Homo sapiens: one gene and its partners. The protein of the gene in region 1 purifies or fractionates together with the protein of each later gene. This does not show direct contact. Each region holds a gene or a part of one and is shown in the gene's direction. Other genes may lie near its edges.

The links.
Region 2: the proteins of STAU1 (region 1) and ZNF512 purify together in Homo sapiens (affinity purification with mass spectrometry; 3 studies listed by BioGRID and IntAct, with this or other methods). This does not show direct contact.
Region 3: the proteins of STAU1 (region 1) and LRRC59 purify together in Homo sapiens (affinity purification with mass spectrometry; 3 studies listed by BioGRID). This does not show direct contact.
Region 4: the proteins of STAU1 (region 1) and RPL4 purify together in Homo sapiens (affinity purification with mass spectrometry; 3 studies listed by BioGRID and IntAct, with this or other methods). This does not show direct contact.
Region 5: the proteins of STAU1 (region 1) and FTSJ3 purify together in Homo sapiens (affinity purification with mass spectrometry; 3 studies listed by BioGRID and IntAct, with this or other methods). This does not show direct contact.
Region 6: the proteins of STAU1 (region 1) and YBX1 purify together in Homo sapiens (affinity purification with mass spectrometry; 3 studies listed by BioGRID and IntAct, with this or other methods). This does not show direct contact.
Region 7: the proteins of STAU1 (region 1) and FMR1 purify together in Homo sapiens (affinity purification with western blotting; 3 studies listed by BioGRID and IntAct, with this or other methods). This does not show direct contact.

The regions. Positions count from the first base shown.
Region 1 is NC_000020.11:49,153,835-49,157,334, reverse strand, and holds part of STAU1 (double-stranded RNA-binding protein Staufen homolog 1), read left to right. Parts: intron 1-3,263; coding exon 3,264-3,402; intron 3,403-3,500. UniProt on the Homo sapiens protein: Binds double-stranded RNA (regardless of the sequence) and tubulin.
Region 2 is NC_000002.12:27,603,542-27,607,041, forward strand, and holds part of ZNF512 (zinc finger protein 512), read left to right. Parts: intron 1-3,500. UniProt on the Homo sapiens protein: May be involved in transcriptional regulation.
Region 3 is NC_000017.11:50,391,024-50,394,523, reverse strand, and holds part of LRRC59 (leucine-rich repeat-containing protein 59), read left to right. Parts: intron 1-1,626; coding exon 1,627-1,785; intron 1,786-2,021; coding exon 2,022-2,126; intron 2,127-3,500.
Region 4 is NC_000015.10:66,499,686-66,501,855, reverse strand, and holds part of RPL4 (large ribosomal subunit protein uL4), read left to right. Parts: coding exon 1-68; intron 69-351; coding exon 352-481; intron 482-537; exon of another isoform or gene 538-604; intron 605-750; coding exon 751-907; intron 908-1,479; coding exon 1,480-1,563; intron 1,564-1,679; coding exon 1,680-1,800; intron 1,801-2,170. UniProt on the Homo sapiens protein: Component of the large ribosomal subunit. The ribosome is a large ribonucleoprotein complex responsible for the synthesis of proteins in the cell.
Region 5 is NC_000017.11:63,821,799-63,824,663, reverse strand, and holds part of FTSJ3 (pre-rRNA 2'-O-ribose RNA methyltransferase FTSJ3), read left to right. Parts: coding exon 1-27; intron 28-252; coding exon 253-333; intron 334-424; coding exon 425-580; intron 581-711; coding exon 712-847; intron 848-1,901; coding exon of another isoform or gene 1,902-1,991; exon of another isoform or gene 1,992-2,075; intron 2,076-2,495; coding exon 2,496-2,680; intron 2,681-2,820; coding exon 2,821-2,865.
Region 6 is NC_000001.11:42,692,418-42,695,917, forward strand, and holds part of YBX1 (Y-box-binding protein 1), read left to right. Parts: intron 1-1,072; coding exon 1,073-1,106; intron 1,107-3,500. UniProt on the Homo sapiens protein: DNA- and RNA-binding protein involved in various processes, such as translational repression, RNA stabilization, mRNA splicing, DNA repair and transcription regulation.
Region 7 is NC_000023.11:147,946,419-147,949,918, forward strand, and holds part of FMR1 (fragile X messenger ribonucleoprotein 1), read left to right. Parts: intron 1-2,264; coding exon 2,265-2,426; 3' UTR 2,427-3,500.

The DNA.
Region 1 (3,500 bases):
AAACTGAAAAAAAGGGTGGTTATGTTTTCAAACAAGAGCCCACAAACACATTGCAGCATCAAAACAAACATTGTCTTAATTTGTGTGAAGTACTGCTGTGTGTTTAAATCAAGTTTGCAAAATATCTTTCATGAGAAGTAATTGGAAGAGAATTTTGAGGCTGGACGTGGTGGGTCATGCCTGTAATCCCAGCACTTTGGGAGACTGAGGCAGGTGGATCACTTGAGGTCAGGAGTTCGAGACCAGCCTGGCCAACATGGTGAAACCCTGTCTCTACTAAAAGTACAGAAATTAGCCGGGCATGGTGGCAGGTGCCTGTAATCCCAGCTACTCGGGAGACTGAGGCAGGAGAATTTCTTGAACCCAGGAGGTGGAGGTTGCATTGAGCCAAGATCACACCACTGCACTCTAACCTGGGGACAGAGTGAGACTGTGTCTCTTAAAAAAAAAAAAAAATTTCAGTGCATACACACACAATCTCTTTTTTTTGTTGTTGTTTATAAAAAACAACAAAAAAGGATAAGAAGGGGATGACAGGATGAATTATCAAGATAAGACCAGGCCTCTTAAACCATGACCATAGAAAGTGTTCAAGGTTCAAGTGACATATTACAGTCAATGTCAGGTTTCATGAATTTGAGAGCTCACACTTTTCATTTCTAGGAATTTACAGTACTGCTGACACTTGGAAATCAGCAATGGGGAGCTGAGTGAACTGGTATTAAAAAGGTCAAACACACAGCTGCTGCTAAAGCTTTGGAGGGAACAAAATTTCCTAAGCCCATAGTCAGCCCTTTTGGTAGCGAAGGAAGGAATCCAGGTCTTATGCATGGGCCAAACAGGTACCTTTCAAAAGTGTGTCTAGAGGTACCATGTAGTATGTATATGAATGGTTTCTTAACTTGTTGATTTTGAAAGCACAGATTCTACACTACCAGTGACAAATGCTTATTTTTTAGGAATCCTTAACCTCATTGTAAAGCAGTGGTTTCCAATCTATGATGCCTTAACGCCTGACAATCTGGAAAGGCGGTCATAGGAAGGATGGCGGGTGACCAGATAATTTCAAAGATTTCCGAAGTTTAATGAAAATATATTTTTGATAAGAGTGTATAGATTAGCAAGAATATAAGTTTAATTTAGAGTCACATCAAGTCAGTGTGGTAATATTGATTGTAATTTTGTTGGTCAGAAGTGCTTATTGCCAGTTGTATGTCTCTTAGTTATTAAAAAGAATGAGAAAAATGTAAATATTACTTAAATACAAGCCAGCAGGTAGTATCTCCTCAGACAAGGAGCCCATTCAGGGAGCATACTAATCAAGAAGGCATGGCTGGTGAAGGGTTGGGGATCAGTGACCTGGAGGCTGTGTCATTAATGGCTGTTTTAGCAGAGACCCCCTCACATGCATGAAGTCATCCCAGGTCTTCGTATGTAGGAAGGAATCTGGGAAGTTACCAGTCACATCTTTCTTGTTACTTTTGATTTCTTTGCAGTATACTTTCTTCATGTTTATTCTCTATTGCAGACAAATTCTGTGGATCAGAGCTGCTCTTAAAATGATTCAGACTGTACTTAAAATGCAATTATATGAATTTTGTAAAAAATATAATTCTAATGCAAGGAAGAGAGAGATCTGTAATTCATGTGGCCCTCTGTGCAAACCCCAAAGATATTCTTATAGATTTGATTCATGCATTAAATTTAGTTGAACCAGTTATAGTACAGAATCAGGTCTTTTTTATTTCTCTCTATATACATCCTAAAGAGGCATTTTAAAGTGGATTTTTATGTGCATTTAGATTTTGCCATTTCTAGTGTTCTGTTTTTGATATGAAAGTGTTGTTTTTAAATATTGTGCACTGACACTAATCTTTCCAGGCTGGTTTTCTTTTTAAATGGTTTTTAAAGGTTTATGGATTGGATGAACTGAAAGAAAAAAAAATTGGAAAATGAATAGCATGTATTTTCTGAAGTTGATAATTTTGAGATAACTTGTTGTGTATGAAAATGGAACTCATTTTCGTAGCAAGTATGACCACAGGTCAAATTCATTAGAAATGTCAAGAATGGAAATACCTGAATATTTTGTGGGCCTTGTGTGACTTCTGTGAAGAGAATTGGGTTGCCACCTCCTCACTGATTTTTCACCTTTAAGTTGCACATCATGTTGTATTGTAACTCTTTGAGTGTGCTTTGTGTTTTTTGAACTCCTCTGGGGCAGGAATTGTGTTTCTTTTTTTTTTTTAAGACAGAGTTTTGCTCTTGTTTCCTCATCTGGAGTACAGTGACGCAATCTCGACTCACTGCAACCTCTGCTTCCTGGGTTCAGGCGATTCTCCTGCCTCAGCCTCCTGAGTAGATGGGATTACAGGCATGCGCCACCATGCCTGGCTAATTTTTTGTATTTTTAGTAGAAACGGGGTTTCACCGTGTTAGCCAGGCTGGTCTCGAACTCCTGACCTCAGGTGATCCACCCGCCTCGGCCTTCCAAAGTGCTGGGATTACAGGTGTGAGCCACCCTCACTGCAAGGTCCGCCTCCCAGGTTCACACCATTCTTCTGCCTCAGCCTCCTGAGTAGCTGGGACTGCAGGCACCCGCCACCATGCCTGGCTAATTTTTTGTATTTTTTAGTAGAGATAGGGTTTCACCATGTTAGCCAAGATGGTCTCGATACCCTGACCTTGTGATCCTCCTGCCTTGGCCTCCCAAAGTGCTGGGATTACAGGCGTGAGCCACCACGCCTGGCCAGGAATTGTGTTTCTTAAGCTTAGCACAGTGCTTTGCATCCAGTTAGTAATGTAATAAATGCATCGTTCAATACTGTGTACGGACATACTTCTGAGTGCAAGCCAATAATCCTGTAAATCAGTACAACCAAGGTTATATTGATTAAGTATTCTCAAACAGTAAAACAATTTGGACATTTACATGGGATTTTTTAATCGTGAAATTTGATGTGTTTTGGAACTTATTTCTGACAGCTGTACCATATAGCTTTCACTGATAATGTCTTGGGTTAAATTGTGGCTCCTCTGGTAACCCTCAGAGTAGATTTTGTGCTGTCGACTGTGTATAAATATCTAGAAATCACAGCATATTCTTGGATTTCCTTGTCTGATGCCTAGCAGTGAGCCACCCAGGTCCTTTTATGTAAAGTATCATGAATCCAATTAGCAGAAAGCATGCTATTACATTTTATTTTAGTGAGTATCATTCTCATACCAGAAAAAAACAGTTCTTTGTCGATTCTTTCTTGCAGAAAGCATAACCCCTACTGTAGAACTAAATGCACTGTGCATGAAACTTGGAAAAAAACCAATGTATAAGCCTGTTGACCCTTACTCTCGGATGCAGTCCACCTATAACTACAACATGAGAGGAGGTGCTTATCCCCCGAGGTATGTGTTTTTTTTTTTTTTTTTTTGTAAAATACAGGAGAAAACGTGTCTGATCTTTTACATAAACCAGTACCTCTAGATTGTGGAGGGAGTAATGA
Region 2 (3,500 bases), on another chromosome or scaffold:
TATATATTTTATATCTTATATATTTTTATATAGTGTGTGTGTGTGTATATTTTTTTTTTTTTTTTTCTTCAAGAGACAAGATCTTGCTGTCTCAGGCTAGAGTGCAGTGGTGGGATCATAGCTCACTGCAGCCTCGAACTCTTGGGCTCAAGCCATCTTCTTGCCTCAGGCTCCTAAGTAGCCAGGACTACAGGCTTGCGTCACATGCCCAGCTAATTCTTCGTTTTTAATTTTTTGTAGAGACGGGGGTCTCATTATGTAGCACAGGCCAGTCGCAAACTCCTGGCCTCAAGTGATCCTCTTACCTTGACCTCCCAAAGTGCTGGGATTATAGGTGCGAGCCACCCTGCTCAGCCCATTATTTAATTAATTAATTAATTAATTTATGTATTTATATATTTTTGAGACAGACTTTCCCTCTGTTGCCCAGGCTGGAGTGCTGTAGAGCAATCTTGGCTCACTGTGACCTCCGCCTCCTGGGTTCAAGCAATTCTCCTACTTCAGCTTCCCGAGTAGCTGGGATTACAGGTGCGTGCCACCACGCCCAGCTAATTTTTGTATTTTTATTAGAGACGGGGTTTCACCATGTTGGCCAGGCTGGTCTCGAACTCCCGATCTCAGGTGATCTGCCCACCTCGGCCTCCCAAAGTGCTGGGATTATAGGCGTGAGCCACTGTGCCCAGCCCCATTGTTATACTTTTAAAACTAAAGGCATTCCCCCATAGCTAGAGCTTTTATGGGCATCTGTCCAGCTGGTTCCTCTCATTTTTTTGGTTTAAATTTTTTTGTTCTCATTACATTTCCAAGGTTTCCCACCCTGTGGTTTCTTTTTTTTTAGAGTCATTTGTTAAGATACAATTTACACATAGTAATGTTTACCATTTTAGTGCATAATTATAAGAGTTTTGACACATGTATACAGTCATGTAACCACTATCACACTCAACACATAGACTAGGCGGGGTGCCTTAGCTCACACCTGTAATCCCAGCACTTTGGGAAGCTGAGGTGGGTGGATTGCCTGAGTCCAGGAGTTTGAGACTAGGTTGGGCTACATAGTGAGACCCTGTCTCTACAAAAAATGAAAAAATAAGCCAGGCATGGTGGTGTACACCTGTAGTCCCAAGTACTTGGGAAACTGAGGTGGGAGGATCACTTGAGCCCAGAAGGTTGAGGCTGCAGAGCTGTGATCATACCACTGCATTCCAGCCTGGGTGACAGAGTGAGACTCTGTCTCAAAACAAACAAAAAAAAGATGTTTTACAATTCCATCACTACCTCAAGTTGACTTGTGTCCCTTTAGTCAGCCTTTTCCTCCAGCTACAGCCTCTGGCAACCACTGATTTATTTTCTGACCCTATAGTTTTACCCTTTTCAGAATGTCATATAAATTGAATCATACAGCATGTAGCCTTTCAGTCTGACTTCTTTCATTTACCATAATCCATTTGTGATTCATCCATGTGTTGCATGTATCATTAGTTTATTCCTTTTTTTTTCTGACTAGGATTTCATTATATGGATGTTTCAAGTTTGTCGTTTATCTGCTTACCAGTTGAAGAACATTTGGTTGTTTCTAGTTTTTGATGATTACGAATAAAGCTGCTATAAACATTCACAAAGGTTTTTGGGCTGGGCACAATGACTCATGCCTGTAATCCCAGCACTTTGGGAGGCTGATGCAGGTGGATTGCTTGAGCTCAGGAGTTCGAGACCAGCTGGGCAACATGGTGAAACCCCATCTCTACAGAAAATACAAAAATTAGCTGGGTGTGGGTGGTGCACGCCTGTAGTCCCAGCTACTTGGGAGGTTGAGGCGGGAGGATGGTTTGAGCCCAGGAGGCGGAGATTGCAGTGAGCCGAGATGGTGCCACTGCACTCCAGCCTGGGTGACAGAGCAAGACCCTGACTCAAAAACAAAAAATGAAAAGATTGTTGTGTTTTGTTTTTTTGAAACAGGGTCTTGCTCTTTTGCCCAGGCTGGAGTGCAGTGGCGCCACCTTGGCTCACTGCTACCTCTGCCTCCCGGGCTCAAGCCATCCTCCCACCTCAGCCTCCCAAGTAGCTGGGATTATAGGCGAGTGCCACCTCACCCAGCTAATTTTTGTATTTATAGTAGAGATGGGTGTTCGCCATGTTGGCCAGGCTGATCTTGAACTCCTGGGCTAAAGTGATCTGCCTGCTTTGGCCTCCCAGAATGCTGGGATTACAGGCATGAGCCACTGCACCTGGCAAAAAAGGTTTTTATGTGAAAATAAATTTTAATTTCCCTTGGGTAAATACTTAGGAATGAGATTTCTGGGTCATATGATTAATGTATATTTAACTTCATAAGAAACTGCTGCATTGTTTCCTAAAGTGGCTGTGCCATTTTGCATTCCCCCAGCGAAGTATGAGCACTCCAGTTGCTTTGCATCCTTGTCTACATTTATTATTATCAATTTTATTTTTTGATCCATTCTAATAGGTACGTAGTAGTACTTAACTGTGGTTTAAATTTTCATTTCCCTAATGACTAACGATGCTTAATCTTGTTGACCATCTTTGCATGTGCTTACACCATGGTGATTTGTATGTCTTTAATGAAGTGTCTGTTCAAATCCTTTGTTCATTTTGAGGGGAAGATTTTTGTTGTCTTATTAAGTTTGGGATATATTCTGGGTTTTTTTATCATTCCGGATACAAGTTCTTTATCTTTTTTTTAACATTGTCTTTTGAAGAACAGAGTTTTAAATTTTGATATAGTTTATGTATTTTTTCATTTATGGATAATGCTTTTTTATATCTAAGAAATCTTTGCTTAACTCAATGTATAATTTTCTTTCTTTTTTTTTTTCTTGAGACAGAGTCTCACTCTGTTGCCCAGGCTGGAGTGCAGTGGTGCGATCTTGGCTCACTGCAACCTCCGCCTCCTGGGCTCAAGTGATTCTCCTGCCTCAGCCTCCTAAGTAGCTGGATTACAGGTGCCCGCCACCGTGCCTGGCTAATTTTTGTATTTTTAGTGAGATGGGGTTTCACCATGTTGGCCAGGCTGGTCTTGAACTCCTGACCTCAGGTTATCCGCCTGCCTCAGCCTCCCAAAGTTCTGGGATTACAGGCATGAGCCACTGTGCCTGGCCCTCAGTGTATAATTTTCTGTTGCTACTGTGAATCACCACAAACTGAATGGCTTAAAACAACACACATTTATTATCTCACAGTTCTTTAGGTCAGAAATCCAGTTACAGGATGCTTCATCTGGTTCCTCTGCTTAGAGTCTCACCAGGCTGGAATCTGTGTCGGTAGGGCTGTTCTTTTTTAGAGGCTCTAGTGAGAGAACATGTTTCTAGACTCATTCAGATTGTTCAAGAATTCAGTTCCGTGCAGTTGCAGGAGTTCCTTTCCTTATTTGCTGTGGGCTAAGAATTCTCCCTTTCCAAAGGCCACCTGCATTCCCTGGCTCATGGCTGTCTTCAAGTCAGAGACAGCAGGTTGGATGTCTCTCATGCTTTGAATCTCTC
Region 3 (3,500 bases), on another chromosome or scaffold:
CTTGTGCATCTTTTGATGGGGAGCAAGAAAGAAGGTGATTTTATGGGCTACCTTATCATTATTCTCCCAAAGGACTTGAATTAGTTGAGATTTGCTCAATGTGGTCAGCACATTCAATCCATGATCAAATCCTTTTTATTTTTCTTGCACAACGTCTGCTAGTTTTCCTTCCACTCCACCTGTGTAGACAGTGGATTCATTCAGCCCCTCAGCCTCTCTGACATAGTAGTGCTCCTGCACCGTCAGGCCTAAGTGTGCTATTGCCACTTCCACCCATCACTCTAGCCGTGCCACTCCTTGCTGTACTCCAGGGTGACTTCCTATTTGGCCCTGGCTGTGGCTCAGAGGTCGAATTCAGAAGTTGGCAATGTCCTCATTGGATTATTAGTCCACTCACCTCTCAGTATTCTCCTAGGCCTTGCTCATCGTCCACAGTACCTTGTCACAGCTCATCAAAAACTGTTTCTAACATTCAAAAAGCATCGAGATCTCACTTCTTCCAGAAAGTATTTTGTGTTGAATAAAAGAAGAATATGTTGGGAGCTGTGGTTCATGCCTATAATCCCAGTAACTCAGGAGGCTGAGGTGGGAGAATCACTTAGCCCAGGAGTTTGAGAGCAGCCTGGACAACATAGCAAGATCCCGCCTCTAAAAAATTAAAAATAAAAGCAGGTTAGCAATTCCTTGCAGCCGCACTCCTTCTGTACACTTTGCCAGATGGTCATTCAGCCAAGTGCACTTTTCGATCTGAGCTTGTTCTGTTGTCTGTACTGACAACTTCCATTTCACTCTGCATTTCAGATCCACTGGCATTTCCAAGTCCCTAGAGAGCATGAATAGTGCCTCATTAGCTGAGGTTGTACCATCGCTTTCAGATGGGTGCTTAGCAAAGGTTTAATGTCAGGGGGATGTTTTGACCTGTGTTGAGAAAGAGCCAGGACTTGGGTAGGATGGACCCCAGCCCGTTCAGTTAGTTATTCACAGAATGTCTGTTGAGCACCTGTGTTAAGTACTGTGCTAGGTGCTGCAAATAACAAGAATCAGACTGAGTACTCCAGGAGTGCCTGATCTTTTTAAGAAAATGAACGAGCACGCTGTTTTGACAGATCCTATGAATGGTGAGCATAGGGTGCTGTGGAAGGACAGAATGGGTAACCACACCTCTCCAGGAGCAGTGTGGAGGGTAGGCTGGAGCAAGAACTGAGGGTGAAGGAATAGTGTTTTGTGCCTACTTTGTGCTAAGCCCTTTTCCATACATATCTTGGTAATTATCACCAGGTGTGGTAGGTGTTCTCTGCATTTTCATTTGAGGAAGAACGGCTGCTAACAGTAGAGCCAGGATTTTTACATGGGGTACCTCTGACTTGAGGGCTTCCAGACTGTTACACCGAAGTGTGTGAGCCCAAGGCTTAGATGAGGAGTTTCCAATCTTGTGGCTTCCCTGGGCCACATTGGAAGAAGAAGAGTTGTCTTGGGCTACACATGAAATACACTGATGAGCTGAAAAAGGAAAAAAAATCTCGTAATGTTTTAAGAAAGGTTACAAATTTGTATTGGGCCACATTTAAAGCTGTCGTGGCTCGTGTGTTGGACAAGCCTAGCTTAGGTTCTCTCTTTGGATCCTAGTCGGATTTCTGTGGCCTCACACACCTGGTGAAGCTAGACCTGAGTAAGAACAAGCTGCAGCAGCTGCCAGCAGACTTTGGCCGTCTGGTCAACCTCCAGCACCTGGATCTCCTCAACAACAAGCTGGTCACCTTGCCTGTCAGCTTTGCTCAGCTCAAGGTAACAATTCATGAACCAGTGTTTCATGGCCAGGGTGGCAGAGAACTCAGGGACTCTGGAGCACGGCCCTGAGAAAGGCTGACAGAAATACCCCCTTGTTGGTCCTGCCTCAGATGGCGCTCCCTATATGTGGAACACAGAGGGGCATTCTTCCTGCTCATTTTGTTTCACCCTGAGGGACTATGTATGTGAACTCGGGCTTAATGAGCCTCTTTGCCCATCGCCCATCTCTTTAGAACCTGAAGTGGTTGGACCTGAAGGATAACCCCCTGGATCCTGTCCTGGCCAAGGTGGCAGGTGACTGCTTGGATGAGAAGCAGTGTAAGCAGTGTGCAAACAAGGTAAGCACCAAGCTCCCTCCCAGTGGCTCCTTATACACTCCCTGGGATTTCTCCTCCTCCTGTTTTTCCCTCCTAGGGCACCTGGAGCTTTGTGTGGAGTTAAGCATTCAGGTCCGAGTGAAATATGTCCACTATGAGCCTGTCAAACAGAGACCTTTGTTTCTGCATTTACTTTATCTTTTTGTTTTTTATTTGTTTTGAGACAGAGTTGCTCTGTTGCCCAGGTTGGAGTGCAAGTGGCACAATCTCGGCCCACTCCAACCTCCGCCTCCCAGGTTCAAGCGATTCTCCTGCCTCAGCCTCCCGAGTAGCTGAGATTACAGACGCCTGCTACCATGCTCAGCTAATTTTTGTATTTTTTAGTGGAGATGGTGTTTCGCCACGTTGGCCAGGCTGGTCTCCAACTCCCGACCTCAAATGATTCGCCCACCTTGGCCTTCCAAAGTGCTGGGATTATAGGCGTGAGCCACCATGCCTGGCCTGCACTTAGTTCGCAAGTCGCAGAACAAGACTGCCTTCTCTACTGCAGTACTTCCTCTCTTAAGGAGCCGGGACCTTGCGTGATGCAACATGACACTGTGTGGACAGTTGTTTTAATAGTACCGGGGGTTAGGGGCTGTGGCCTTTCTGAGGCACAGTCGTAGGAATGTTGATAATAAAAGCGATGATAAAGGTGTTACAGCTGTAAGCAGGCACGTCCTGGGCAGACCTGGTATTTGATTACAGTTGAGTCATCTGACATAGGAGTGAGGAACTGAAAGCAGCATGCAAGACAACTATTGTCTGTGGTCAGTAGCCTGGAAGGTGCCGTACCCTACCTATTAAGAACAGCATTACACCTATCTCTTAATAACTCCAACTATAGTCACTTTTTCCCTCCAGCTTTGGAACAGATTGCTGCTGCTTCAGCTGAGCACCAGATGACTAACTTGGCTATGTTTAAGGTGCATGTTGAACAAAAAAGACTTAACTTTAAATACTAGAATTCATGGGTGAATGATGAGTCTCTGCTGTCTCAAGTAGAGAGTAAGAGAGTAAGATACTTCTTATCATTAGCTCAGGGCTTCTTATATAATCTTGTCATCTGTATCATCTCTTATTACAACAAATCAAGCACAAAGTTAACCAAGTAGCTAAGACAAGAGTTTTCCCTTAGATGAGAACAGTATAAGTGATCAGTGAAATCCTCTTTTGAAAACTAGGTGCTGTAGGAGTGATGTCTGTTCTGCAAGCTGACAGTAGCTACCATTGATTACTCTTTCCTTGTCCTGGATGCTTTCCATGCACCATCTCACAATCCTCAGAGCCCTGAGGAGTCGGCATTACTTTCATTTCTCTGACACAAGAAACCCTCAGCATATACACACCTTTCAT
Region 4 (2,170 bases), on another chromosome or scaffold:
GCTACAAGAAGACCAAGGAAGCTGTTTTGCTCCTTAAGAAACTTAAAGCCTGGAATGATATCAAAAAGGTCCGTTCAATGAGCACATTTACAGTTTGGTACTCCTTGTTCACAGTTTGTCACTTTGAATTTCAGAAGATAAGGGCAGTATAGCTAATCCTTAATGTGTGAGAGAACAAGAACCTCAGAGCCCGATTACTTGGGTTTGAATCCTAACTGCTGTTTATGGCTCTGTGTAACCTTGGCAAGTTATTGTGCCCAGTTTAATCATCTGTAAAAAGGAATTAAAACTCTGAAGATCTATTGCAGAGATTCTATCTTAATCAGAATACTAAAACTGCTCACTTTGTAGGTCTATGCCTCTCAGCGAATGAGAGCTGGCAAAGGCAAAATGAGAAACCGTCGCCGTATCCAGCGCAGGGGCCCGTGCATCATCTATAATGAGGATAATGGTATCATCAAGGCCTTCAGAAACATCCCTGGTAATTAAACTGCTTACATATATTGACTAGGTATACTCTGCAAGTCTACTCAGCTTTTGTTATGATGAGATTCCACTTAAGGTCCGTGTTTCTGAAACAAATGATTTTGTGGAAGTTCTGATTTATGGCTGAAAGAGTTGCACCATTGATGGTTGAAACTTCATAATTAATAAGTTCTCAGGTACCTTTTATAGCTCTTAAGCCATAAAGATGATTTGTGTTTCTTTTGTTGGAATACAGGCTCCCTAATTTTTCTTTCCCTTTAAAAGGAATTACTCTGCTTAATGTAAGCAAGCTGAACATTTTGAAGCTTGCTCCTGGTGGGCATGTGGGACGTTTCTGCATTTGGACTGAAAGTGCTTTCCGGAAGTTAGATGAATTGTACGGCACTTGGCGTAAAGCCGCTTCCCTCAAGAGTAACTACAAGTAAGTATCTTTCATATACTAAGCACAGATGTTTATATTGTGGATATTAACATTCAGAATTGGCTTACATGTTTTCTAAATTTATTCCCATTTCCCCTTATGTGCAGCAACAGTATGCCAAAATGAGACTCACCTGGTCTATATTTTTGGTTTTTTGTTTTGTTTTTGAGACAGAGTTGTTCTGTCTCACCCACGCTGGAGTGTAGTGGTGTGATCGTGGCTTACTGCAGCCTCCGCCTCCCGGGTTCAAGCAGTTCTCCTGTCTCAGCCTCCCAAGTACCTGGGACTACAGGCTTGTGCCACCACACCCGGCTAATTGTAGAGTTGGGGTTTTACCATGTTGGCCAGGCTGGTCTGGAACTCCTGACCTTAGGTGATCCACCCGCCTCGGCCTCCCCAAGTGCTGGGATTATAGGGGTGAGCCACCACACCCGGCCTGGTCCATGTTTATGAGAAGTGATAGTGTAGTAGATATTTTGGAGAGCATAGTGGCTAAAAATAAAGCTTCAGTTGAGCTTCCTGTTCTTTGGTTGATTACTTTTACATGTACATGTCAATCTTTTCCCTTTCAGTCTTCCCATGCACAAGATGATTAATACAGATCTTAGCAGAATCTTGAAAAGCCCAGAGATCCAAAGAGCCCTTCGAGCACCACGGTAAAGTGATACTTAGAGTGTAATTCTCGCCCCAACCCTATACTATTGGTTGTTTCAAAAATTTGTATGTGTATAATGTTAAGTAAAATGTTGATACAGTATCTGCTTTTTTATAGCAAGAAGATCCATCGCAGAGTCCTAAAGAAGAACCCACTGAAAAACTTGAGAATCATGTTGAAGCTAAACCCATATGCAAAGACCATGCGCCGGAACACCATTCTTCGCCAGGCCAGGAATGTGAGTGGAGTTTTTGTTTGTTTGTTTGTTTTTGAGTCGGAATCTCGCTCTGTCACCCAGGCTGGAGTGCAATGGCGTGATCTCAGCTCACTGCAACCTCCACCTACCAAGTTCAAGCAGTTCTTCTGTCTCAGCCTCCCAAGTAGCTGGCACTACAGGCGCACGCCACCATGTCCGGCTAATTTTTGTATTTTCAGTAGAGACGGGGTGTCACTATATTGTTAGGCTGGTCTCAAACTCCTGACCTCAGGTGATTCACCTGCCTCGGCCTCCCAAAGTGCTGGGATTACAGGCGTGAGCCACCGTGCCCGGCTGGTTTGTTTTGTTTTTGTTTTTCTCTTCCTGATACATTAAGTTCTTACAGGGATTT
Region 5 (2,865 bases), on another chromosome or scaffold:
CAGAGTGTTGGGGCGCAAGGAGCTCAGGTATGGAGTGGGGTAGGCACGGGGGCCAGGAGCCCTGGAGGCAGGGAAAGGCCATGATGTTGGACCTCTGGGAAGAGGATATTGCTGTGCTAAAGGTTTGGGATGGGGGCCTGAGCCTTTTGATTTATGTAGCCGAAGCCCGAAAGGTGGGTAGTGAGCCTAAAACAGAAGGGGGCGGGGACAAAGAGGGAGATGGCAAGATCAGTAATAGTATCTCTGGGGCAGGTCGCTACTAAACTGGAGAACAAAACTTCGGCGATATGTGGCCAAGAAGCTGAAAGAACAAGCAAAGGCACTGGACATCAGGTGAGGAGAGAACGCAGCGAGGCAGGTGTGGACTGGGTGTCCAGGGGAAAAGTCTGGGAAAATAACCCAACTCTTGGGACTGTTTTGCCAGCCTCAGCTCTGGAGAGGAAGATGAAGGTGATGAGGAGGACTCAACAGCTGGAACCACAAAGCAGCCCTCTAAGGAGGAGGAGGAAGAGGAGGAGGAGGAACAACTGAACCAGACCTTGGCAGAAATGAAGGCCCAGGAGGTGGCGGAATTGAAGAGGTGAAAGGAGCTGGGGTAGAGCTTGGAGTTCCCCAACGCAGGGACTGTGTGAAGATGGGAGAAGAAAATGCAAGGCATGGATAGAAACTTTGGAGCTGGGCCGGTTTTACTCCCTCAATCCACCCCCTCAGGAAGAAAAAGAAGCTGTTGCGTGAGCAGAGAAAGCAGCGGGAGCGTGTGGAGCTGAAGATGGATCTGCCTGGGGTTTCCATTGCAGACGAGGGGGAGACTGGCATGTTCTCCTTGAGCACCATCCGGGGTCACCAGGTGAGGCGGCATTGGGGGTGCAGGTTTAGGAGACAGAAGGATCTGTTTGGGTGTTTGGAGGTGGGGGGTGTTGAATGTCTTTTTAGGTTGCCGAACGATAGGCTGTGGTTGCTGTCTTCACCACAGGGTGCCTTGGTGAGTATAAGGCCACAAAGAAACATAAACCAAAAAGGATGAGTTAGGTAGATAGATGAGTGTGATAGATTTATTTTTTTTTTTTTTGAGACGGAGTCTTGCTCTGTTGCCCAGGCTGGAGTGCAGTGGCACGATCTCGGCCCACTGCAAGCTCCACCTTCCAGGTTCACACCATTCTCCTGCCTCAGCCTCCCGAGTAGCTGGGACAACAGGCGCCTACCACCACGCCTGGCTAATTTTTTGTATTTTTAGTAGAGACGGGGTTTCACCGTGTTAGCCAGGATGGTCTCGACCTCCTGACCTCGTGATCTGCCCACCTCGGCCTCCCAAAGTGCTGGGATTACAGGCGTGAGCCACCGCGCCCGGCTGATAGATTTATTCTTGAAGAACTAGAACATCAGAAAAGAACTTAGGTTATAGTAGATGCTGCCAGGTTACTTGAGTTTCAAGCACAGATGAATAGAGGATCTCCCTCAGAGGGGAGCAGCATTCTTTAGTTCATTGAGACCAAGTGAGCACTCGCATTAGGGTACTTCCACTGAATACTGAAGAACATGTTTTTCCTGACAAAATCAGGGTCACAAACAAAATGAACTTTTGTGGCTTATGTGTGGGAGTGTCATAATCAGGTCATCTTTGTTGTACAGGAGGGCAGTAGAGCATGGTGGCCCTAGAGCAGACACAGGCTCAGGTTTCCTTCCCAGCTCTACCACCTGGAGCTTTGTGAAGTGACTGAGCTGACTACCACTTATCCTTGCTGCCTCAGTTTCCTCATCTGTAAAACAATAATAGAACCTACCTACTAGAGTTTTTGGTGAGGAATAAAAAAAGATAGGTGTAATCCCTCATATGTGATAAACACTCAAGAAATAGTAGTTGGAGTTTTTCCTTTGAGACAAGATCTTGTTTTGTCACCCAGGCTGGAGTTCAGTGGTGCCATCATGACTCACTGCAGCCTCAAACTCCTGGCATCAAGCAATCCTCCTGCCTCAGCCTCCCAAAATGCTGAGATTACAGGTGTGAGCCACCATACCCAGCCTAGTATCTTTACCATGAGGAAAATAAAAGGTTCTGACAATTGGTTTAAGTGGAACAGTTTTGTTGGATGTATGTTGGCTGGGCCCCTTTTATTCAGTGGAAACAAACTGTGTAGACGGTATTCTCAGGAGATGATTGAGATGCTGTCTGAGAATAATTTTTAAAGGAAAACCAGTGTTGTAGAATATGTTAAGATTTGGTGCTATGTGGGCTGTAGGTACCTTCCTTAAGACCTATTTGTGATACCACTGAGACAAGACAGCTGAGTGGGATAGATCAGTAACCCAGCCTAGAACGGGATGTTGTAAACAGGCCATTCACTACCCTGGATCTGAGCTTTCCCATCTGTGAAAGGATAATGGATTTGCCAGTGTTCTTTCTAGTGTTGCTGAGCATAGACTGAGGTGAGGGACACAGAAAAAAAAACAGTATATTTCCTTTTAAATAGTTTACCTTTGTTTCTGTTACACTTCAGTTATTAGAGGAAGTAACACAAGGGGATATGAGTGCAGCAGACACATTTCTGTCCGATCTGCCAAGGGATGATATCTATGTGTCAGATGTTGAGGACGACGGTGATGACACATCTCTGGATAGTGACCTGGATCCAGAGGAGCTGGCAGGAGTCAGGGGACATCAGGGTCTAAGGGACCAAAAGCGGTAAGGGGCACGTGTGCACCAAAGGGAATGCTGCCACTCTGAGGAAGTGTTAGGGTGGGTACTACCAGAGCCTGAGTAGGGCAGCAAGGGCTCCAGGCAATCTGGGTCTCTGAGCCCCCTACTTTCCTTTGGGTCTACAGTATGCGACTTACTGAAGTGCAAGATGATAAAGAGGAGGAGGAGGA
Region 6 (3,500 bases), on another chromosome or scaffold:
CCTTAAGTCGCTTTTACAGTTTACCTGTTCTGTTTTTTTAATTATCCTGTTCCCATCAATTAAAAATGTTCTTATAATAATCCAAGCTATAATTTACAGGTCAGATTTAAAGTTAATTTTATGTGGATCCTTTGATGCATATGTTGCCCCCAGTTCAGCAAGAAGCTAACAGTCAGTAAGCCAGTTTGTCCAGTTCATTGTAACCTTTGTTCCCTTTGTCATTAAACGCTAGAGCTACTACTGAGCTTTTTCTCACTCTGACCTGACGGAGTAAAGAGGGTGAGGCAGGCCACTGCAGGCCTGGAAATCCGTTTCCTTCTCCAGTGGTGATTCTTGCTCCTCGTGTTATCACCTTAATCCCAATATCCAGGCTAAAAAGTGAGATTATTCTCTACCCCCTCGCTTCTGACATCCAGTCATCCACAAAGTTTCTCATTTTGCCTCAAAAAGAGATCTCAAATGTCTTTTTATACATGGCTCCGTGGTCTAAACCTTCATCAGTCCTTGTCTGGACTTGTGGAGTAGCTTTTATAACTGGGCTTTTCTTACATTCAAACATACCTTATCACCCAAAGGTCACAGTTCCCATTAGGTTTCACTCTTTGCGTTATACATTCTGTTGGTGGGGAGGGGGGTTCTCATTTTTATGATCTCAAGGAAAGTTGGTAGTTGGGAGATGCAGGATAAGGTGAGAATGTAACTACTACTTCTGTTGGTAACCATGCTCTAGAGGTAAGAGGAGGGTGTGCTAGAACAGTTAATGTTTAATAGGATAAGGAGGGGCAGAATATATTTTGCTAGTCATTGCTACCCTCTTAATTATGGCTCAGTAGGTCACACTTTAATTTCTTAGACTTTTTTTTTTTTTTGCCTATCTTACGGGTAATGAGGCTACAACTGTTTGCAACTGCTGAAGTCTTGAAAGCAGAGAGCATGGTGGCTTGTGTTTTTTGATTTTTGCCAAATTTCCTGGTACCTAATTGGCAGCCAGAGAGTCTCTGGGAAAATTAATCTTTGACAACATGAGATTTATTTCATTTTCTAACTTGTTCAACTTGGTTCTGTCTTGCAGGAATGACACCAAGGAAGATGTATTTGTACACCAGGTGAGTGCTTGTGTAGATATTTGCACTTCTGATTCAAGGATTGTAAGAAGAAAAGGTTAGATATGTTCTCAGCTTTTGTTCCTTATAAAAGGTTAAGTCCAACCACCAGTTTATTTACTTACGACAGGAGTAGTAGCATGCTTAAAAATGTATACGTGGAAATGTGTTAGAGTTGACTTAATTATCCTAGACATTTCAAATTGGAATTTTGTCAACAGCTGTGGCTTTCTCAAATGTTGAGTCAAACTCACTGCATTAAATATTTATACCTAATTTCAGATGAACAGATTATTCCATGATTCTAAAGTTGAACAAATAATGTTGCTATAAATACACAGAAACTTTGGCAAGAAGTTTTCAAAGGCTTTTAGGTGTACCTGTAGGGACAAATCTCCATAATCAAGGGTAAATAAGACAGACCTGCAAAACATAGTAATTGAAGTGAGTACTTGAAAAGTAGCATAAAGAGCCTTCTGCTTACTTTAAATCACTTTGAATGGGTATTGGGTTTTTTTTTTTTTTAAACCTTTGGAGAGTTTTGGCTGGCTTGGAAAATGAAAAAATTTCACTAGTTTAAGGTTAAGTGGGGGGAAGTGTGACAAGGTTGGCAGCTGCTCATTAAATAATTTTTAGATTGGCTTCCAGTGATTTGGGAAGAGAAAACTGTTAACATAGGATGAGTACTGATGAGTACTGCATAGTGAACTTTCTCCCTAAGTATCATTTAGGGAAAATGTTTGCACATTCAGGAATTAAGATTATTACTAATGTAAACCACTGCCAAGTGTATGTTAATACTTCAAATTTAGATATGCTGTAGGCTACATTGAATGTACTTATCCTCACAGATACGAAATGAGTAGGAAAAAATATGTTTGTGCTATCAGTTTTCTCACTAAGGCTTTTGAAATATTGTCAACTTGTATTAAAATTAGAGACCATAACTACTTTTTTGTACTATAATCCAGAAATCAAAAGACCTAAAAGTTAATATCCATACTCACATTTAATTAGATACTAGCTTTTATGGCAGCATGTTTCATAGGAAGGGCTGTCATAGGTTGGTGCTTTGTAGCTCACTGAAGTGTCCTACACAGTATTTGATGACAAGGAGGAAGCTATATCAATTTCTAGTACACCCAAACCCAATCAGGTAGTTCAGGGTCAAATGTAATTATGGAATCATTTAAATTCTAAATGTAAATAAATACAGGACTACTTCAGACAAAATGTTGTTTTAAAGTAGATGTTTTATAAAATTGGTATTCTTGTTTGGAAGAACACAGCTCAACTGTTCCTTACTCCCCTTCTGCATGTTCAAAAGAATGTGTAGACTTAGGAACAAGAGACAGCAAAGTTTCTCGGTCTTGTTGCCTGTTGGCAACCCTTAAGGGTTGGGGTTGGGGCAGGGGTGGAGATGTTGATAAAAATAAAGAGTTGGGATTTTAATTATCCATAATTCTGCTATCCCCTATGACTGCAGGTAATTGATAGTTGGCTATATCTGAAAGGTATGAAAACTATGTGACAGTTTAGATGACAGATGAGATCAATTATTTGACTCAACTCACCCAGTTGTACTGATTCACAAGGTGCCACCAATATGCTTTCATTTTTTTGGAAGTGGTTTCAACATGTAGTTGTTTCTTGGGACTTTGGCTGCTCAGGTCTTAGTGGTGTATCAGGGAGACTGCAGTTCTGGGCAGCTTCACTTAATTGGCCTCAGATTCGTTGATTGTCCTGTCTCCTCTGCAATGGAAATGCATGAGTGATCCTGTAATGGATATAGCTGAGATTTGGAGTGAACATGGGATTTGGAGACCCAATACCTGGGTTTAGAAAGTCTCCTTACTAACTGTGTGACCTTGGGCAAGTCACCTAACTTTAAAGCCTGTTACATTATCTGTGTAATGGGATTAACAATACTTTCACATGTCCTGTCTCATAATGAGATTGAATAGATAGTAAGTGAAAGAATGTTGCAAAAAAATTTCATAGAAACGTGAGATGTTACTCTTCCTCCCTTCTCTTAACAGTCTGGAGAAAGTAGAAGCAACAAGTCTCTAATACAAGATTTATTGAATTCTGGGGAGGTGATAACTAACAATTCCATGCAGTCAGATCATATAAAGAATGACATAGTTAATACACATGAATTGCATTTCCACTGATGTATTATCAGATTGGAAGGGATTTTGGTTGACATTTGTAATTGAGTTTGATACGGTAACACAGGGGCAAAGTTGGTTTGGTCAGCTTTGAAGCATGCAAAACCAAACTCGCCTGTCATCTAAACTGACGCAGTGTGGGGCCACCTTCTCCTATTAAGTGCAGTCCTCAGGGGATAGATGGATATCCTCATTTGTTAAAAGTTATATATAATGCTTTTGCAAA
Region 7 (3,500 bases), on another chromosome or scaffold:
TACAGCCAGGACCTAGTCCGAGGATCTCTTCTCAATTGGCTGTCACCAGTGCTAAACCAATTGTTAAATAATTTTAAAATTATCTCCTGAGCACATCCAGGCACCTTTGCTAAGTGCTTTGTGTATGTTTTATCTCATTTAATCTTACAGCAACCCACTGAGGTAGTTTTATTATTCCACTTTATAGGTGAGTGCACTGTAGCTTCAGTCCTTTGCCCACAGTCACATAGCTAGCATATGTCCAAATGATAGTCAAACCTTAGTGTCTGATTCTCTGAATCTATGTTGTCGTCTACTTTTTCTGTAACTTTTAATTATTAAGTAGTTAGGGTTCCTTCCTGACTATGGATTCATTTGGGACCATCACCCAAGATTAGTGAGAGATACTTTTTAAGACAAAGTTTATGATGGAATATTTCTTGGAATTCATAGCAGCTCAAAGTAAGTGTTAACTATTGGTGGGTTCTTAAGGACCAGCATGTCCAAGGGATAGATAGATTGGTAAATTACTGTATGTACCTGTCTTTTACAAAGCTATAAGATATTTAAGTACCCGTTTTGTAATTTTCCACTTAAACTGATATGTTTGATGAACTTGGCAGTCTAACTGCATTGGTTAAAAGGATGCACATTTATATTTCTAAATGAAATGGAATACTGAATTTAAAAGGTGATGTTTTCTCTATTAAGTATGAAAATAGATACAAATCTGGCCAGGCGCGGTGCTCACGCCTGTAGTCCCAGCGCTTTGGGAGGCCAAGGTGGTCAGATCACCTGAGGTCAGGAGTTCGAGACCAGCCTGGCTAACATGGTGAAACCCCATTTCTACTAAAAATACAAAAAATTAGCCAGACGTGTTGGCGGGCACCTGTAATCTCAGCTACTCGGGAGGCTGAGGCAGGAGAATCGCTTGAACCCAGGTGGCAGAGGTTGCAGTGAGCCAAGATCTTGCCATTGCACTCCAGCCTGAGCAACAAGAGCAAAACACCATCTCAAAAAAAAAAAAAAAGGGCCAGGCACGGTGGCGCACGCCTGTAATCCCAGCACTTTGGGAGGCCAAGGCGGGTGGATCACAAGGTCAGGAGATCGAGACCATCCTGGCTAACATGGTGAAACCCCATCTCTACTAAAAATACAAAAAATTAGCCGGGCATGGTGGCGGGCACCTATAGTCCCAGCTACTCAGGAGGCTGAGGCAGGAGGATGGCGTGAACCTGGGAGGCGGAGCTTGCAGTGAGCCAAGATCGCGCCACTGCACTCCAGCCTGGGCGACAGAGCGAGACTGTCTGGGAAAAAAAAAAAAAAAGATACAAATCAAAGTACTGAATCCTTGGTAACGAGACATTTAAAACACATGCACATACCCACTACTTAAACATACTTTGAAATTACAACCATTTGGGGATGTTTTTAGCATTTGTGCTTGAAGTAGATCAATATTTGTAGTTGTTTTAGTTCCATTTGTCACTGTTAACTTTCATTTGTACCTCTGGAATTAGCAGTGCTGTATTCAGCATTGGCACTTAAAATATTTTATAGCTCTTAGAACACTATTTTTTAAATTACATTGATCTTTATACTCTCCTAGGATTCCAGTCCTTCCACAAATTATTATATGCAGTTTTCTTTATACTGTTCCATTCTTCAGACAGAGTTCAGGTTGTAGGATCATCTGAATTTTCTTAGTGAAATACAAGCCAGTAGAAACCAAAGCTCGTGTTTTTCTACTGTATGACTATGGGAGCTCTCAGTATAGAGAAACTTGATCATACCTGTGATAGATATAAAGATGTAAATTAAAGTCTAGTTAGTGAGTTATTTGAGGGTAAAGCCAGAATAGGAAAACATTTTGTTTCTCTTTTCCTGGGCTTCACAATCTTTGGAGAATAACTAATTTTATTTTAACTCTAGTGTTAGAGGCATGTATGTCTTCTGGTAATCAGTAATAGTAATTCATTTTACCTGTTTGTTTCTCACTGTTTTATTCTACTTAGAAGAAGACATGATAGGATTGTGAGTTTTTCTCTAACTTTGGATGCAGTGAGATGACCAGTGTGTTCCAGTTAAAGAAGAAGAGTGTTTTAAAATCATAAACCAAATAAAGAATCCTACCTTACATTAATTTCTTGCACTTCTTCTGTTCTCATCTCCATTTCTCTTTTTAACATGTGGAATTTACACTTCAGGTTTAAATTTCTTGTCAGGCCAATTACAGATTACAGTAGGATATGGTCTGTGTATATAACAACTATAACTTGTTTTAGATCAGAGTTGACTGCAATAATGAAAGGAGTGTCCACACTAAAACATTACAGAATACCTCCAGTGAAGGTAGTCGGCTGCGCACGGGTAAAGATCGTAACCAGAAGAAAGAGAAGCCAGACAGCGTGGATGGTCAGCAACCACTCGTGAATGGAGTACCCTAAACTGCATAATTCTGAAGTTATATTTCCTATACCATTTCCGTAATTCTTATTCCATATTAGAAAACTTTGTTAGGCCAAAGACAAATAGTAGGCAAGATGGCACAGGGCATGAAATGAACACAAATTATGCTAAGAATTTTTTATTTTTTGGTATTGGCCATAAGCAACAATTTTCAGATTTGCACAAAAAGATACCTTAAAATTTGAAACATTGCTTTTAAAACTACTTAGCACTTCAGGGCAGATTTTAGTTTTATTTTCTAAAGTACTGAGCAGTGATATTCTTTGTTAATTTGGACCATTTTCCTGCATTGGGTGATCATTCACCAGTACATTCTCAGTTTTTCTTAATATATAGCATTTATGGTAATCATATTAGACTTCTGTTTTCAATCTCGTATAGAAGTCTTCATGAAATGCTATGTCATTTCATGTCCTGTGTCAGTTTATGTTTTGGTCCACTTTTCCAGTATTTTAGTGGACCCTGAAATGTGTGTGATGTGACATTTGTCATTTTCATTAGCAAAAAAAGTTGTATGATCTGTGCCTTTTTTATATCTTGGCAGGTAGGAATATTATATTTGGATGCAGAGTTCAGGGAAGATAAGTTGGAAACACTAAATGTTAAAGATGTAGCAAACCCTGTCAAACATTAGTACTTTATAGAAGAATGCATGCTTTCCATATTTTTTTCCTTACATAAACATCAGGTTAGGCAGTATAAAGAATAGGACTTGTTTTTGTTTTTGTTTTGTTGCACTGAAGTTTGATAAATAGTGTTATTGAGAGAGATGTGTAATTTTTCTGTATAGACAGGAGAAGAAAGAACTATCTTCATCTGAGAGAGGCTAAAATGTTTTCAGCTAGGAACAAATCTTCCTGGTCGAAAGTTAGTAGGATATGCCTGCTCTTTGGCCTGATGACCAATTTTAACTTAGAGCTTTTTTTTTTTAATTTTGTCTGCCCCAAGTTTTGTGAAATTTTTCATATTTTAATTTCAAGCTTATTTTGGAGAGATAGGAAGGTCATTTCCATGTATGCATAATAATCCTGCAAAGTACAGGTACTTTGTCT